Linked DNA regions of Homo sapiens: all the other regions are reported to be linked to region 1. Evidence: microRNA targets listed by miRTarBase, many of them from high-throughput screens and not tested one by one. Region 1 holds a microRNA gene; each other region holds the end of a gene's coding sequence.

Region 1 (3,256 bases):
TTGAGCCCAGGAGGCAAAGGTTGCTGTGAGCAGAAATAATGCCATTGAACTCCAGCCTGGGCAACGGGAGGAAAAGATATGCCAAAAAAGGTAACTGTGGTTACTTCTAAGAAAAGGACTGAGGCTGGGCACGGTGGCTCACGCCTGTAATGCCAGCACTTTAGGAGGCTGAGGCGGGTGGATCACTTCAGGCCAGGAGTTCAAGACCAGCCTGACGAACACAGTGAAACCCTGTCTCTACTAAAAATACAAAAAAAAAAATCAGTCGTGCATGGTGGCACATGCCTGTAGTCCCAGCTACTTGGGAGGCTGAGGCAGGAGAACCGCTTGAACTCAGGAGGCAGAGGTTGCAGTGAGCCAAGATTGCATCACTGCACTCCAGCCTGGGTAACAGTGAGACTCCGTCTCAAAAAAAAAAAAAAAGAAAGAAAAGAAAAGAAAAGAAAAAAAAAAAGAAATGGACTGGAATTGGGGATGTTATCAAAGATGATTTTATCGGGGGCCAGGCACGGTGGCTCACGCCTGTACTCCCACCACTTTGGGAGGCAGAGGCGGGTGGATCACCTGAAGTCGGGATTTCAAGACCAGCCTGATCAACATGGAGAAACCCCATCTCTACTAAAAATACAAAATTAGCCGGGCGTAGTGGAACATGCCTGTAATCCCAGCTACTCGGAAGGCTGAGGCAGGAGAATTGCTTGAACCCGGGAGGCGGAGGTTGTGGTGAGCCGAGATCGCACCACTGCATTCCAGCCTGAGCAACAAGAGCGAAACTCAGTCTCAAAAAAAATAAAAAGATGATTTTACCCTTATTTCCTATGTTTTAATTTGCTATTGGAAGAAGTAATTCCTATATAATGTGTAATTACACAACACGTATAAAAAAAAAAAAAAACTTAACACCTTTCCTGCAGGAATTTCCCTTCTAATACCCTTATGCACTTGGCCTGATCCAGTTAAGGCTCACAGAGATAAAGGGCCAGCGGGTATAATTTTTTACCATCCTTGATGACAAGACATTCAGAATTCTTTCACCATCACCACCACTTTTCTATTCATTGCCCAACTCATTTCCATGGTCCTAGCACAAAATACTCACTGGTGGAAGGAGTGAGGATCATCCACATCGTGGCCATCGGGGGCCAAAGGGTTGGAGAACGGCTCACCTGACAAAAAAAATTGACGTTAATTTAATCAGTCTCTTACGTGTCAGATCCTATGCAAAAATTTGAGATATAGTAGTGAACAATACAGAACAAAAGTTAGAACAGCGACAGTGTCAACACAATGTAATAAGTGCTGAAATAGGAAACTACAAGAAGCTGTGGGAGCACAAAGCAGAGGACCCTAATCCTGCGCTGGAGGATCAGAGAAGACTTCCGGAAGATCACGTCTAAAATACTACGTAAAAGATAAATACGCGCAACCCAGGATTAAGTATGGGGACAGGACTGGGGGAAAGCGATCCACGCACAAAAGCCGCCCATCATCACTTGGAGTAGGAGTGAGGACTGGGGACGGAGTTTGGAGCTGTCGGCCTCACTTAGGACCCTGTGGCTTCTCCGGGCTCAAGCGTCACACATACATACATACACACACACACACACACACACACACACACACACACACCCGGCTTAAGCTCAGAAGCTACAATAATGCGCCAAGTGCCCCAAGTGCCATGGGGAAGAAATAACGGATGGCCTGAGCCTTACTATCTCGCTCCGGCATTTTGTTATCGTTCTTTCGCTGTCACCAACAATCGAGTCTCCAACAGCAACACCGCAGCGACAAGCTCTTTCCCACAGTGCACCTCAGAATCAACCCACACTGCTTTGCGTTCGCAGCCTTTCCGCTTCCTGTTTTTCCCTCCGACCAACCCCGAGCGCAAAGAAATTGACCTCGCAGCGGTCCTACAATACTTTTATATCATTGGCCAAGCTTTACCCCGCCCCTGCCTCATGCAGCCTATGGGCTAGGCTTTAGGGTCCGCGGTTGGTCAGACCGGAGCACTTGGCCTGAAGACCTGGAATTGGCGACTTCGATATTAACAAGGATGGCGGCGGCCGCAGCAAGTCGAGGAGTCGGGGCAAAGCTGGGCCTGCGTGAGATTCGCATCCACTTATGTCAGCGCTCGCCCGGCAGCCAGGGCGTCAGGTGAGGCGCGGCGTGGTGAGGCGGGCGGGCTTCGGGACGCCAGGGTCACGACCTCGACCTCCCTGAAGTTGAGGGAAGCCCCCGCCCACAGCACGCGCGGCGCTCTCTCCGGCCCCGCAGGGACTTCATTGAGAAACGCTACGTGGAGCTGAAGAAGGCGAATCCCGACCTACCCATCCTAATCCGCGAATGCTCCGATGTGCAGCCCAAGCTCTGGGCCCGCTACGGTGAGTGCGGGACGCCAGGGGTCTGGGGCTCCGGTAGGGGAACAAGGGTTTGAGAAGAGAAGGGACCGCCCAAGGTCGTGCAGAAACCCGTGGAGAAACTAGAACTCGGACTTTAGCCTTGCTGTTGATCTTGTTTCCATGAAGAAATTTATATTCGCAGGGTTATATGATGCGTTGTATTCCGGGCAACATAAGTATGCAGGCTGACCGAATCCTGCGTAGGGACCAGGAGCTGACGTTTTTGTAGTTAAGAATGGGCTTCAGACAGGAGAGAAGTTAGTCAATATAGTTTCTCCAAATAACGTGTAGCCAGTGTCAGTCCAGGTAGTGTGTGAGAATCTCAGTAATTTTGCACATAGAGCTGGGCCCTGTGCTGAGTGCTTCCCTGCCTAACTCATTTAATCTTCATTAGTTAGGAGGAAGCGTGTTCTTCTTTTCTCACTGTAGAGATTAGAAAACGGAATCAAAACTTTGTTTTGCACTATTGTTAAACTCTAGCTGCAACTTTAGATGCAGCTAGAGTTTAACAGGATTGAGCCTTTACATTTATTCCCCTTCCTAGAATGCACTTACCCCTCTAAGACTGGCATGGCAATGTATTGCAAAATGAAATTTTCCTATCATGTTGCCTAACACATTGTAGGTATGCAATAAATGTTTATACATACTGAATAACAGGATTTTAATCACAGCTTTTAACTATATGGTGCCCTGGGAATGACGGGAGGAGGTGGAGGAGAGTGACCACCTTAAGCAGATTGGTTCTCAGAGTAGATATCTGTGAGACACAGTAGACATTAGACATGCACTAATAATTGGAGAAGGAAAAAAGCTTCTCCTTCCAAAAGCCAGTAGACTACAGGAGGAGATAGACA
Region 2 (3,256 bases), not on the chromosome of region 1:
GTCCATGCTCGGTGGTCCTGCTCAGTGGTCCATGCTCGGCGGTCCATGCTCGGTGGTCCTGCTCAGTGGTCCATGCTTGGTGGTCCATGCTCTATGGTCCATGGGGTGCTCGGTGGTCCGTGCTCGGCGGTGGTTGGTGCTCGGCAGTCCATGATCTGTGGCCCATGCACGGTGGTCCATGATCTGTGGCCCATGCACGGTGGTCCATGATCTGTGGTCCATGCTTGGTGGTCCGTGCTCGGTGGTCCATGGGACTGATCCTGCACACCATGTTGTTTTCCTATAACTTACGTACTTTGAGTGATGTGGTTATTCATTTCGCTGAGGTCTTATAATCTTACTTTCGGGAATAATGCACTGATTTTGGTTTGTTTGATCATCACTAGGGCCACAGGAGAATGGTATGCTGCTCGGCATGGAGTGAAGACCACCCCGTGTGCAATCTGTTCACCTGTGGGTTTGACCGGCAAGCCATTGGTTGGAACATCAACATCCCTGCATTGCTACAAGAAAAATAAGGACACCGGCAGCCCTTAGTTTCACTGTTTGCCAGCACAGACCTTTGATGGGTGCAGGCTTTTCTGCGTATTAATCAGCCATTTTTGTGAGAGTTTGACCCTGGAAAGGGTGCTTTGTATATGTTCTTTTCACATAGTGCCCAGCTTGCATGAAATGTACAGAGAAATGTGTGGTCGTATTTTTTACTTTTGTCTTGTATATGTATGTATATTGGGTCCTCTGGGCAGTAGAGGCAAAGCTCACCTCCCATGTAGCACATGAAATGCTTGTGAGTTGTTGACATTGGACAGGTGAACAGTAGGGCATTACATTTGTGTGAATTAAATGTGAACTTCTGTATTACGTTGCGGCGTCGGCAGTCCTGCGTTCCCTGGAGTAACTGTACGTATCTGCCTTTGCTGGGAAGACTGTGGGGCTGCCTGTGTTGGCTGGCGACCAGCAGGATTGCTCCAGGATTTTGTGTTTACCTCGCGTGAAGTTCAGCACGTGCTGTCGTGTAGTCAGCTTCTACTCTAATTTCTGTTACAGTTCTGCAAAGGTAACCTGGAGTTTAGAAGTTAAAAAAAAGCATGGGATGTTGGATTTGCACCATTTGGAGTTTCTTTAGGAAAGAAAAGTTTTCTGCTTTTTTATAGAAAATCATTTCAGTCTCCCGAGGTCTCATGCTAGCAAATTTTGAAATAGGATTCTAATCACTGATTTCAAATATTAAGCAAAATGTAAAGCACTTTAATTTATAGCTATGGTTATAAACAGGTTTTAGATGTTTCAAATGACTTGTCCACTGAATGTCACTTGACCTTGATAAGAGGCCGCCTGCACACAGAGCCCAGTTAATTCTCCGCACCTCGGTTGTGTGCTTCCGAATGGGCTCACTCCCGTGGTGGTGTTTGAGAGCCAACAACACTACCTCAGAGACGGGTCTTTGGGAAACTTTGGGTCTCACTGTTGCCTGGCTGGAGCACTTTGGTTTATAGCTGGAATACTGAGTTCAGTTCAGAAGGCAGGAAAGACAGTCACACCGACGTGTCCTGAAGGTGTAGGCTCTCCACTTAGGCGCACAAGCTGACGGCTGCAGCCAGCAGGCCCCGGTGACGAGACACTTCCAGGTCTTGTGGTGGGGACGCCTCTCAGTGCCAGTCCCGCCACTGCTGAGTGAGCCTGGTGTTCTTGCCTTCTTGGAAATTACTGCTCACCTGGTATCTGTACGTTAATGTTTCTTGCTGAGTTACAGTTTTGATAAAGAGGCTCTCATTTCCTGTGTCTTGTATATTCAGTCCTTTCAATACGTCCACCTGGAGGCTCACCACTTGGAGAGACACAGGAAGGTAATATTTACAGCTGTCATGTGACATCCCCAGGTCTTTGTGTTTTGCCCTGTTTTACGGTGAGGTAGGAGGGAACCCATCTGGGGACCGGTAGGTGCAGGTGCAGTAGGACGTGGGACTTTTGGACCCGTCCTTTGGTGCAGCTCGCCAGGGATGAGAGGCACCTCCCTACTTGGGTCTTCAGGAGCTGGTCCAAGGAGCTTCGAATCTAAGTCATCTAGAATGACCCTGAAATGACTGACAGCCCCGGGCCCAAGAAAAACCCATAACCACCTCAGATGGATCTGACGTGGCTAAGGGACAAACAGCAAATATTTCAGTCATTTTGATTTTACAAATAAAAAATGTGTTGTGTTTTTGTCCGACATTATTTCCTGACTGCACTGTTCTGAGAATGGAGTCCACCTGGTCCCTCTGGTTGATTAGAATCTCAGGTTTCAGCTCCTGCTGTCCTGAGCGAACTTGCCTGATGCAGGGCTGTGCTGTGTCCAGATGTTGCTGGGGCCTCACTTTTTCTCTTGGCTGGAGGTCCAATTGCCAGAGCCTCCCACACTGCACATACAAAGGTCTGAGCCCAGGGCAGCTTCTGGGGCCACTGCACAGGCCACCTGCTTGGGTTCCTCGGAGTTTAATTTGAAAGTCTGGGTGTCTTAGGATGATGGTTAGGAACATTGAAAAATGGCTGCAAATAGCCAAATCAAACTTAAGAACCAGATCTCTGCCAGATTAAACATTTTTGAAGCTTTTAAAAGTCAATATTCCTAGTGGCCACTGAGTTCCAGGCACACTGGTGCCCTTTACTGCCACAGCTGCTCACCTTGTCTGGCAAACTGGAGGGACCTCAGAAACTGGACTCCTGCATGTCCTTGGGGGCGCAGCCCTGTGGTGCTCAGGCAGAGCTCTCAGGAGCCGGGGCACCTTGCTGTTCGCTGCTGTGTCGTCTTCTAATGTGAGCTCATCCACTGCTGCTGCAGCGTGGTGATCAGGAGTCACAGACAAGATCGGGGATGGTGTGTGTGTGTGTGTGTGTGTGTGTGTGCACGTGTGTGTGGCTAAATTAAGTCATACTGTCAACCACACGTGATCTCGTCTGAAACAGTGTTTGGAAGTGGGAACAGTTTTGTCCTGTATGCTGATGTGTCCAGAATTTCATTTAATGATAGACGGAAAATGTGTGGTTACTGAAAACTGTATATGATACAGAATTTCATAAGAGCCATGCTGTTGGGCAAAGCAACTCTTTTTCAACCACTGCTCATCAGTTTCTGTAGAGACAAAAACTCTGTACATATTTTGGAATCTGAAGAATCCTATGTAAATCATTTGTTACTTAAGTCTGTGAAAAACATATTTCTTTGGAGGAAAATGTATGCATTTATAAGTGTTCCATGGAATCAGTTTTTATTGTA
Region 3 (3,256 bases), not on the chromosome of region 1:
ATATATTGTGTTAATTTATAGAAAAATTGTAATTTAAATTACATATTCATAGTCTTGCCTACTTGCATGAGCATGTTTTTATTGCTTCTAACCTGGATTGAAATCTATGACTTTTTATAACAGTCATTGAGTCTGTTTCAAAGGAATCTTGTGGTAAGTATTTTTGCATGATGTACTCAAGGTATCAAGTTTAACAATTGACTTTTTTTCATTGGAAAGCATATGTGATTAACTAGCATGGATTGCTTCTTGACCTGCTTGTTTTGTGTTTGTCTTTTTCTTCTAATATAATAACCAGGGATTAATGAAAATCAAGTTCCATCCTCAGACAAGAGGTAAAGTTCACACATTCTTCCCATGTCTGTTCAGAAAAGAAACCTATTCAGATATAAGTTAAGCTAATTTAGTAATCCTAGAATTGTCCTCTGAGAGATTTAGATGGATGGGCCACTTCACAGTAGCAGCCAACTCACGGGAGCACCTGGGCAACGCTAGTGGACTTTTTTGTAGTGAGTGTGTTGATCATAGAAAATGTAGATATAAGGAAATAAACTTTGAGGATAGAGAATTAACATTATTTTGAGATATTATATATAGGTTGTGAAGAGTGGTGGTTGTCACACTTTATGGTCTCTGGACCCCTTAATGTCTGATTCATGTAGCAGAAGCCAGCTAGATTTTCATCTGTCTCTATTCATTTTGTTGTGATGTCATGGATCATGTGGCCTCTGGAAAACTCTACTGTATACTCGAGAATGAGAATATAACAGGCAAAATAACATTATCATGAAAATAGTTTTGACCTCATGAACCCCATGAAAGGTTCCCCAGACCAAAATTTTAGAATCACTGGTATAGGGTAACACTTTATTGTGTAAATTCAGTTCTCTGTACCCCACTTAAATATGTATTATTATCTCTTGACATTATTTTCCCAAAAAATGCTGTTTGATTTCTTACTTGTTCTGTACTTTGTTTTTCAGGTAAAGAAGGAAAATTCAGCCAGTTGATTTTGTTTTTAGCTTACTGCTGCCTTTGTCCGAAGAAACTGTTCCTCCATTATTTGAATTACTGAAGACAGCAAGATATTTGTAAATTATCTTAAAATAAACAACTTAAAATAAAATCATTGTTTTTCTTATATATAAGAACAATAGATATAGTTTTTGAAATGAGATGATACTAAAACATTTAAAAATATTAATATGCTACTATTAAAATTTTTTAGTAGAAGACAATTTAAGAGGCTCTTTTGATTTGGTAGTGCTCCACTGACCTTAAAATGTCTAGCCTCTATGGGGACAACGTAGAGGGAAAGGGCTGCAGCCACAGCCTCAGCCCAGTTCTGTGCCTTATTACAGCCTTAAAGAACAGTCAACAAGACCAGGCACGGTGGCTCATGCCTGCAGTCCTAACACTTTGGGAGACTGAGACTCAAGGTGGATCACTGGAGGTCAGGAATTTGAGACTAGCCTGGCCAACATGGTGAAACCCTGTTTCTACTAAAAACAAAACAAAATACAAAAATGGTGCACACTTGTAATCCCAGCTACTCAGGAGGCTGAGGCAGGAGAATCGGTTAAACCTGGGAGGCAGAGGTTGCAGTGAGCTGAGATCGCGCCACTGTACTCCAGCCTGGGCAACAGAGTAAGACTCTGTTCCAAAAAAAAAAAAAAAATGCCACAGGAAGCATTTGCTTGGAATTCTGGATACAAAATTGCAAGCATATACTTACTCTAAATTATTTAAAACATCTTTTCTAAACACTGAGAAAAGTACGATACTCACATTTAGATCACAATTAAGATTAGATGCCTGCGTTGACTCCACACTCTGAGTTGGCCATGCCAAAATTTCAGGCTTTTCCCTATTTGTTTAAAATTGATAACTTAGTTTTTTGGGTTTTTTTTAATTACAAAAGTAATATATAAATTCCAAAATACATAAAATTATAAACAATATAAAACCCATTCTTAACAAGCTCCTCTTTTAAAAACAAATGAATGCATGTATTTAGAATGGATTCTTTAAATATTTACAGCTATATTCGTGGTAATGAATAAAAAGGTTCAGTGAACTGACCAGAGCTTCAAAGTCATTTTCTAACTCCCCTCAAAGTTTTCAGGAGCCACTTCTGAAGGGGTTGGTGGCTGAGACTAGGAGAAAGAAACAGCTCACAACTGAGGAATCAGATGGAGGTGTAGTGTGAACCAGTACAAGATACCTTTTGGGAATGTTAGCAACGAACCACGTGCCTCTGGAGGCTGTGTGTATGTGTGTGTGTGTGTGTGCACGCCACTATACCTGGCTAATTTAAAAAAAAATTTTTTTTTTAGAGATGGGGTCTTGCTATTTTGCCCAGTCTGGTCTTGAACTCCTGGGCTCAAGTGATCCTCCTTAGCCCTGCAAAGTGCTGGAATTACAGGTGTGAGCCACCATGCCCATCCTGTTTTGTATTTTGCTTCTAAGCTTGGCTTGACCCACCTCCAGTTTCTAGGAGAGCAGAACACATTTGTGAGGGTGATTTGAGTGTCCTAGACATCATGGAAGGAGGAAAAGCAGGAATTTGAAATCAGTCAACATAAGTAAGAATAATCTGTGTCTGAACTGGAATACTAGCTCAGCCCTTAACAGCTGTGACCTTGGGCAAGTTACTTAATCTTTCAGTTTTATGATCTATAAGATGGAGATTAAAAGATTGTTAGGATTAAATGAGCTAATATTTTAAAATATCGAGAATCTGACAGGGAGTAAGTGCTATATTCTTGGTTAAATGTCTGCTCTATGTAAAATTAATCATCAGCTCCCTGTAGCCTTTAGTGGTGCTCTTCTGTGTACTGGCACTCTGACTCTCTGAGGATACAATAACAAAACGCCTCCTTGCAGGAGCTTACAGTCTGGAGGGAACACAAGCAAATGACAGAATGTGGTAAGTTACAATTGGTGAGCCACAAGAGGGACAGTGACTCAATTTGGGGACAGATGAAGGGGACTGAGAAGGCCGTCCAGCTTGGAGGAAGGGAGGTCTAAACAGTCCTCAAGGACCAGTGACCAACAGTAGAAATTAAACTACTAGAGCTAACTGGTGGGGAGGGAAGGCATTTCAGGCCAAGGAAGCAGAAAAAGCAAAGACCAAAATCTGTTCAAATGCACATTCTGAAAACTGCTAATACAGAGAACGAGAAAGGCAAGATAAATCTGGAAAGGTGAGTGTACCATGCTGTGTGGTTTAGACATGTAGGAAGGAATCAAAGAG

The links. The annotated mature microRNA hsa-miR-3655 reads GCUUGUCGCUGCGGUGUUGCU and lies in region 1 at 1,773-1,793, opposite strand. An mRNA with a match to its seed (bases 2 to 7 or 8) in the 3' UTR can be bound and repressed. Matches are read on the target gene's strand: a 7mer-m8 pairs with bases 2 to 8, a 7mer-A1 pairs with bases 2 to 7 and ends in A, and an 8mer does both.
Region 2: the mRNA of WDR37 is a reported target of hsa-miR-3655. Seed matches in the 3' UTR shown: 7mer-A1 at 2,842-2,848.
Region 3: miRTarBase lists ATP5F1C as a target of hsa-miR-3655. Seed matches in the 3' UTR shown: 7mer-A1 at 328-334.

What each region holds. Positions count from the first base shown.
Region 1 is chr5:140,646,381-140,649,636 of GRCh38, reverse strand. MIR3655 (microRNA 3655) reads right to left here and starts at 1,793; the gene lies at 1,711-1,793. It overlaps NDUFA2 (NADH:ubiquinone oxidoreductase subunit A2), which reads left to right and starts at 2,007. Exons shown (of 3, transcript NM_002488.5): 1 at 2,007-2,154; 2 at 2,275-2,381. The coding sequence starts at 2,054. It overlaps IK (IK cytokine), which reads right to left and starts at 1,808. Exons shown (of 20, transcript NM_006083.4): 1 at 1,713-1,808; 2 at 1,100-1,166. The coding sequence starts at 1,728. It also overlaps a transcript of TMCO6 not described here. RefSeq lists enhancers at 1,734-2,269, 2,010-2,429.
Region 2 is chr10:1,128,827-1,132,082 of GRCh38, forward strand. It overlaps WDR37 (WD repeat domain 37), which reads left to right. Exons shown (of 14, transcript NM_014023.4): 14 at 387-3,256. The coding sequence ends at 518. Among named protein-coding and RNA genes, the nearest start is that of LINC00200, 29 kb to the right of the region's middle.
Region 3 is chr10:7,806,676-7,809,931 of GRCh38, forward strand. ATP5F1C (ATP synthase F1 subunit gamma) reads left to right here. Exons shown (of 10, transcript NM_001001973.3): 9 at 299-335; 10 at 984-1,126. The coding sequence ends at 305. LOC105376392 (a long non-coding RNA gene) reads right to left here. Exons shown (of 3, transcript XR_001747356.1): 2 at 1,789-1,867. Among named protein-coding and RNA genes, the nearest start is that of TAF3, 10 kb to the right of the region's middle.